Linked DNA regions of Homo sapiens. The protein of the gene in region 2 interacts with the protein of the main gene of each other region in a pairwise test. Each region holds a gene or a part of one and is shown on either strand. Other genes may lie near its edges.

The links.
Region 1: the proteins of SHANK2 (region 2) and DLGAP2 interact in a two-hybrid assay, tested with the Homo sapiens proteins (one study listed by BioGRID).

What each region holds. Positions count from the first base shown.
Region 1 is NC_000008.11:735,591-739,498, reverse strand, and holds the start of DLGAP2 (disks large-associated protein 2), read right to left. Parts: upstream 1,872-3,908; 5' UTR 1,692-1,871; coding exon 1,674-1,691; intron 952-1,673; exon of another isoform or gene 1-951.
Region 2 is NC_000011.10:70,482,836-70,486,743, reverse strand, and holds part of SHANK2 (SH3 and multiple ankyrin repeat domains protein 2), read left to right. Parts: coding exon 1-1,430; intron 1,431-3,908. UniProt on the Homo sapiens protein: Seems to be an adapter protein in the postsynaptic density (PSD) of excitatory synapses that interconnects receptors of the postsynaptic membrane including NMDA-type and metabotropic glutamate receptors, and the actin-based cytoskeleton.

The DNA.
Region 1 (3,908 bases), on a different chromosome or scaffold from region 2:
TGCGCCTTCCAAGGTGCGCTGGGGCCGGGGTTTAGCGCAGCTTCGCGACCCGGGGGAAGGCTCCTTGGAGAGCCTCCTGGACTCCCTCGGGCTACGCCGAGGTACCGGGTTATTTCCCAACTGCAAGGACAATTAATTCACGGGCTGTTGATGAGATTCCTCCTGACAGGGCGGATTGTCGGGCTCCGCCAGGCTCTGGGACCGGGTCTCTGTCCGCCGCGCCCCAGGCCCGACCTCTCCGGGGGGTACCCCCCTTCGCGTCGCCGGAGCTGCCTCCAGCCTCGAGTCCGGGAAGACGGGAGAAGCGGCGGCGCTTTGGAGAATATTTACAGTTCCCAAACCCCCCACAGCCCGGGCTGGCCGAGTTCATCCACACGAAGGATAAATTCACTGCTGATCGCTTTATCTTTAATCGATAGAAGACCGGGGCCGCCGACAAGTCACGAATTTCCAATTCCAGGCCGTGGCCGGGATCGCCATTCACCGGCGGCGGCGGCGGCGGCGTCGCGCAGGGGCTGGAAGGACCCGGGCTCCAAGCGCGCAGGGCCGGGACCGGGGGCCGCGAGTTTCCGACGCGCATCGCAGACCCGCCGCGCACCCTCGCCCCCGCGTCCGCTCTCCACCTGCGAACCTACGCTGTCCGGGGGCTCCGCCTTCTCGCCGGCGCCCACCTCGCCCAGCTATCTCTCCTCCAGGCCCCTCCCCGGGTTCCCAGGTCCAGCCTGCTCCGAAGCCTCGGGCACCGCACACGCCGCGCGCTGAGGGAGGGCCGGGCGGGGAGAGGCGTCCAGTCCAGCCCAGCCCAGCCCAGCCCAGCCCAGCCCCACCTGGGCGCGCAGGCAGAGGAGCCCGCGTCCGCCGCCCCCCAGCCCTCCGCGCAGGGCTGTAATAATTACATCCTCATTATTTCTCCTGCAATCGTTAGCGAAGGAGCCGGAGACAGCAACAGCCGCTGCCGGGGGAGGCTTAGTTACAAAACCCTGCGCTGGGTAGCGCCTCGCTTAGCAACCACCCCTAAAAAAGACCCCGAGCTCCTCGCTCGCACTTGGAGAGCCGGGCGGCGGCCACCCCCTCGCTGCGCGCACCCTCCACTCCGCCTGGTCTCGGCAGCCGCTGCTGCCCGGCACAAGGGCCCCATCCTGGTCGCCCCCGCCCCCGCGAGCCCCCGTGCGCGCAGCCCAGCCCGGCACCCTTCATTCATTCCCAGTCCCCGTCGGCGTTTCCACCCGGGCTTGGGGGGAGGGGGATGCAGTCTGCTGCCCGCCGCCCCCACTCGCTCGCAGCTGCCCCACCGGAGCTAGGCGCGTAGCCCCTGGCGCGCCGGCACCCCCCAGGCTTTGCCCCCTCCACCCCGGGCAGGCAGAGCGGAGAATTTCACACCTCCGCGGCCCCGTGCGCTCCCGCACCCCCGGAGCCCAGGGTCCCGGCACCCCCGAGCGCGGCCAGGGATGCGCGGAGCCCGGCGAGGAGCGCAACGCGCGACCCCCGAGCACAGGCTGTCCCTGGGGTCCCCAGCGCTCCGGCCCCGGCGGGCGGCACGACCCCCGCTCGCCCCCGCCCCCAACCCTGACGCCCTCGGGGCGTCCCCGCGGGTCCGACACACCGCGCCCTCCCCGCCTCGACGGCTCTCGGAGCCCCGCGCCCGGCTCCCGGCAGCCCCCGGCGGCTCGCACCTTCCTCAGCGCGGACATCCTCGGACGCTCCGGGCTCAGCAGGTGCGGGGCGACATGGCGAAGCGGCCCCTCCTCAGACCGACGGCTCCCGGGGCTCGCGGGTTGGGGTCAGTACGTCCGTCCGCGGTCCGTCCGTCCGTTCGCCGCCGCAGGCGCCGCGCGCTCAGACCGCGCTCGAGCCCGGCGCACGGTCGGTCTTCACGGCCGGCGCCTGCGCACTCGGCGCCCAGGGAGGCACCGGCGCACTGGGGGGCGGCCGGCGCGCGGCTGCATCTGGGGAAGGGCCCGGCTTGGGGAGCGCGCGGGCAGCCCGGCTCCAACTGTTGCGCGGGGCGCGCGGGTCACCCGGGGACTGTGCCGGGCTCCCGGCGGGAAAGCAGCGGCCTCCACCGCGGCGCGCGCAGGCGACGCTCACCGCGCCCGAAAGTTAGCGGGGGACCCGGTCACACCCGTCGCCCCCGGGCAGGGTCAGCCTTTCTGGACCGCTGTTAGAGACGCGCCGGCGCGTTTGTGCGCGGGACTCGCGCTCGGGTTCGAGTCGGCTCGGCGCCCAGGGGGGCTCGCGGGGCAGAGGGGACGCGGGGCGAGGGAGGCGCGGGCGCTTGCGAGGGTCTCACTGCGAGGTGCGGCCGCCGCTTGGGTGCTGGAGGCAGAACCTCCCCCGGTTTCCACTGGCGGGCTACGCTGAGGAAGGTGTGCGGCGGCGGCTTCGCGGGGACCCACCGGGGGGCGCCCCGAGAACCTGGGTCCGGACGCAAGGAGCGCCCTCGGAGGGGGCCCGCCGCCTGGGTTTGCTGTGAGTGGCGTATGGACGACAGAGCCGAGGAAAAGGGAAAATCGATCCGGAGAAGTGGTGTTGACAACCACAGCAGCCGGGAAGATCAGCCACCCTGGCCACGTGTGGACGGACCCTCGCCAGGATCATGGGTTTTCCCTTCCGGGATCGGAACGCGGGAGCTAGACGCGCTGGTATGGGGATCCCTGGGCGGTCACCGACCCTGGGCAAGTCTCTCAGCCCCAGTTTAACATAAACGCAGAAATGGATTTCTGCTTTCCACCTGCATGGCTACGGCATTTAAATGAGGTAAAAGATGCGAAAACAAACCGCATAGAAAGACGGATGGGAGTTAGAATGAAATCAGGTCATCCAAAATATTTGGAATGGACAAACCAATCTTTTCCAGAAATTCCAAGATCTTTAAACAAAAAACAGGCTCTGTAAGAATTCCCCGTATAATTGATCACCAAAATATTCATCAGTTGCAGTTTATTTTCAAGGCAGAGTGCTAAACGACGAGGGGGTAGAAAGGTGAATGGGAGAAAGAAGTCCGGCCGCTGTCCATTTCTTCTAAATGTTTCCCGAATCTATCAGTGGTCTCCACTGTCAAAAAAAAAAAAAAAAAAGGTGCATTCAGCGCCCAAACCTCAACTAGGGAGAGATTCCAGGCCAATTTATTTTCATTTCACAATTTACTTTCCCTTTGCTTTCCTCCCCTGCATTTCGTCCCCATCCCTTCACGTTTTTTAAAAATATATATATATATTATTTCATGCAACCGCAACAAGAAAATCACACAAATGTACTGACGGCCTCTCCTGTGTTCTCAGCGTGTGAGCAGCACAGAAAACCACGGTTGCCGCCCCATGAAGCCTTCAGTCTAGAGAGGGATCCGCCCAGAAGTTACCCAAGGAACAGACAATTACAAGTTATAATTCTCTGAAGGAAACATATGGAGTGTTATTGGTGAATGTGAAAAGGGCAACAAATACAGTTTGTGACATCAGAAAAGAACTTTTTGAGGACGTCGTTATTAAATCTCCCCCTGGGTTCTCCCACAAGCAGGTTTTGAGGTGTGGATTTGGGTGCAGGTAGTTCATTTGGGAGATCGATCCCAGGAAACTAGAGAGAGGAAGTAGGGAGAGAGAGGCAGGGCAGGAGAGGACGTCCCAGAGGCTGCGGTGACGCTGGGCTGCTCCTGTGGCCACCGGGGCCCCGTCCTGCTGGGGTGCTCTAACAGGAGCAGCTTGGAGTGCACGTCAGCTTAGGAAGGCTGGACAGCTTTTCAGCTTCTAGGTCCCAGTGACTGAGGGCTGCTCCTCACCCACACACCCCACTCCCCAAGTTGAGCACCTCCCAAAGCTTCAAAGAAAGTCCAGAGGCCAACCAGCAGGGGAGTGCACGGGGACCTGAGAGCACATTGAGGGTGGCATCAGAGGTGGCCTCTGCCATGGCCC
Region 2 (3,908 bases):
AGCAGCCCAGCAGTGCCCTCCGCGAGCAGCGGCACAGCCGGCCCCGGGAATTATGTCCACCCACTCACAGGGCGGCTGCTTGATCCCAGCTCCCCGCTGGCCCTGGCACTCTCCGCAAGGGACCGAGCCATGAAGGAGTCTCAACAGGGACCCAAAGGGGAGGCCCCCAAGGCCGACCTCAACAAACCTCTTTACATTGATACCAAAATGCGGCCCAGCCTGGATGCCGGCTTCCCTACGGTCACCAGGCAGAACACCCGGGGACCCCTGAGGCGGCAGGAGACGGAGAACAAGTACGAGACCGACCTGGGCCGAGACCGGAAAGGCGATGACAAGAAGAACATGCTGATCGACATCATGGACACGTCCCAGCAGAAGTCGGCTGGCCTGCTGATGGTGCACACCGTGGACGCCACTAAGCTGGACAACGCCCTGCAGGAAGAGGACGAGAAGGCAGAGGTGGAGATGAAGCCAGACAGCTCGCCGTCCGAGGTGCCAGAAGGTGTTTCCGAAACCGAAGGTGCTTTACAGATCTCCGCTGCCCCCGAGCCCACCACCGTGCCCGGCAGAACCATCGTCGCGGTGGGCTCCATGGAAGAGGCGGTGATTTTGCCATTCCGCATCCCTCCTCCCCCTCTGGCATCCGTGGACTTGGATGAGGATTTTATTTTTACAGAGCCATTGCCTCCTCCCCTGGAATTTGCAAATAGTTTTGATATCCCCGATGACCGGGCAGCTTCTGTCCCGGCTCTCTCAGACTTAGTGAAGCAGAAGAAAAGCGACACCCCTCAGTCCCCTTCGTTGAACTCCAGCCAACCAACCAACTCTGCAGACAGCAAGAAGCCAGCCAGTCTTTCAAACTGTCTGCCTGCCTCATTCCTGCCACCCCCTGAAAGCTTTGACGCCGTCGCCGACTCTGGGATCGAGGAGGTGGACAGCCGGAGTAGCAGCGACCACCACCTCGAGACGACCAGCACTATCTCCACCGTGTCTAGCATCTCCACCCTGTCTTCCGAAGGTGGAGAGAATGTGGACACCTGCACAGTCTATGCAGATGGGCAAGCATTTATGGTTGACAAACCCCCAGTACCTCCTAAGCCAAAAATGAAGCCCATCATTCACAAAAGCAATGCACTTTATCAAGACGCGCTCGTGGAAGAAGATGTAGATAGCTTTGTTATCCCCCCGCCCGCTCCCCCGCCCCCGCCGGGCAGTGCCCAGCCTGGGATGGCCAAGGTTCTCCAGCCAAGGACCTCCAAGTTGTGGGGCGACGTCACAGAGATCAAAAGCCCGATTCTCTCAGGCCCAAAGGCAAACGTTATTAGTGAATTGAACTCTATCCTACAGCAAATGAACCGAGAGAAATTGGCAAAGCCGGGGGAAGGACTGGATTCACCAATGGGAGCCAAGTCCGCCAGCCTCGCTCCAAGGTAAGTCCGCGGTTGGTGCACATGCACACCGCTCTGCGTGCACTGTCCCTGCTGACCAGGAAAGGCCCTCGGGTAGCAGCCCCAGCGGACACGAAGAGGGGAATTCGTAAAGCCTGTGTGGGCCACGTCTGTTAATGCAGTAACACTTCTTTTTCTCATGCTCCTGGACTCCGGGATAGCCGAGTAATGATCACAGCCATCCTGGTGGGACACAGCACTCCTTCATAAAGACTTGTAATGAAATGAGGTTGCTGGAAGCCCTCCTCACCTTGGCTTCCAAAGAGAAGCTCTACTCTCTCTTCTGTGCCCTCCAGATCTCTGCCAGGACCACCTAGAAGGCCGTTTAGAGCCTCGCCAAAGCCCAAACCAAGCTTCGAGTTGGTTGCAGGAGACTAGCTGCCCCAAGAGGGCAGCGAGTGGGTGGGCGGTGGGTGCAGGTGTCTGAATACACGTGTGGGTTCTTCTTCCCCTCCCATCACTACCAGGTTTGCGGGCTTGGGAGGCACAGGGTCATGGCTGTACTGGTGAACTCTAAGTGCAGTACATTCTTCCCTGCCAGCCCATCCTGTCCCAGGGGCAGAAGCCTCTAGCTGTGTCCATGTCAGCCCTTCACAGTATTGTGCAGGGTTTACATTATTTCCATTGGAACTGAACGTAGAATAAGTCAGGAGTCATTTCTAGACGCAACCAGAGGGCTCTATCTGAGGCTGTCTGGAAGGAGCCTATATTTGATCATTCTTGCACTGCTATAAAGAAATAGCTGAGACTGGGTAATTTATAAAAAAATGAGGTTTAATTGGCTCGAGTTCTGCAGGCTATATGGGAAGCATGATGTTGGCTTCTGCTTGGCTTCTGGAGAAGCCTCAAGAAACTTTCAGTGATCACCAAAGGGGGAGCAAGAGGGAGTCGGGGGAGGTACCACAGTCTATTTAAACAACCTGATCTCATGAGAGCTCACTATGTACAGTAGCCAGGGAAGATGGTGCTAAACCGTTCATGAGAACTCCCCCACCATGATCTGATCACCTCCCACCAGGCACCTCCTCCAACACTGGAGACTACAATTTCACATATGAGATTTGGGTGGGAACACAGATCCAAACCGTATCAGGGCTCAGCAGTCTGTGGCTTTGGGGAGCCCCATTGGCTCCCGTGATGGCTTATGGTTCTTGGTTCTCCTTCCCTGTGGTGTGCACCATTTTGCTGTTCCCCAGGTGGCAGCATCTTCAGTCTCTCCCACTGATATTTGATCTTGGGTTTCATCATTTTGACTAATGAAGCCTCTCTCCATACCCCTGCTGGGCAGGCATTTGATTTAAGCCACTCAGTGCATTAATCAGTGACATCACATACAGCTGGGGCTCAAGATGCAGACTGAGAGCCCCAATTTTCCCAGTTATTTTTCAGTGTGGATGTAAATAAATGACTTGGATGTCATCTATTACTCTAAAGGAGTATCGATAGGCTGGCATTGGTATAGAGAAGCACAGTTACACTGCAGACATTCAGACAGTGCCTCCAGTCAAGGAGAAAGTCTAAGAATTATGTACGTATACACCTACAAGTACACTCAACAGCCTCCAGGAATTTTGAGAAAGGGTGTTGCTTTGCCGCTCAGGCTGGAGTGCTGTGACGTGATCACGGCTCATTGCAGCCTTGCAGCCTAGACCTCCTGGGCTTAAGCAATCCTCACACCTCACCTAGCCTCCTGAGTAGCTAGGACAATAGACGCATGCCACCACACCCAGCTATTTTTTTTTTTTTTTTTTTTTTTTTTGGTAGAGATGAGGTCTCACCATGTGTCCCAGGCTGGTCTCGAACTCCTGGGCTCAAACGAACCACTCACCTCAGCCTCCCAAAGTGCTGGGATTGCAGGCATGAGTCACTGCACTGGGCCAAAAATCTGAAAAACTGACTAGTTTAACCCTTCCCCATTACATACTAATGTGGCTCTTCCGTCATTACTCTATGTGGAAGCAATAATTAAAGAGGCCTTATCTTAGTGTTTCACATTTTTACAAAACACTTTCTCATGGGTGGGTAATTTTTATGACAACTGGGGAGCAGGTATGAGTCACACCCATTTTTCAGAGGATAAGTGGCTTGTCCACATACACAGCCAGCAGGAGGCAGAGCTGGGACACAGGCTGGGGTTTCCTGACTCTCACTTCCCCTTGTAAGCAATGTCTGCAGTAAGGAAGGAGCTGGAAGGGAATGGCTCTAGGGCTGGAGGAAGGAATCCACTGTTCAGGTCAGCAGGGCATCCTGCACCAAGCTGTGCTCCCCTGAGCACTCCACTCGGGGAGTCCAGGGACCCCGTCCATGGAGACCTCTCCCTGAGTGGCAGCTGGACAGCTCATCCCCTCTACTCGTCTTCAGGCTGGGCCAGCTCCTGGGGTGCCCACAGGGGAGTGGGACCCCAACTTGCAGCGTCTCTAGGGTTTCTCTGCCCTGCATTTCTCCAGGGGGACCCTGAGA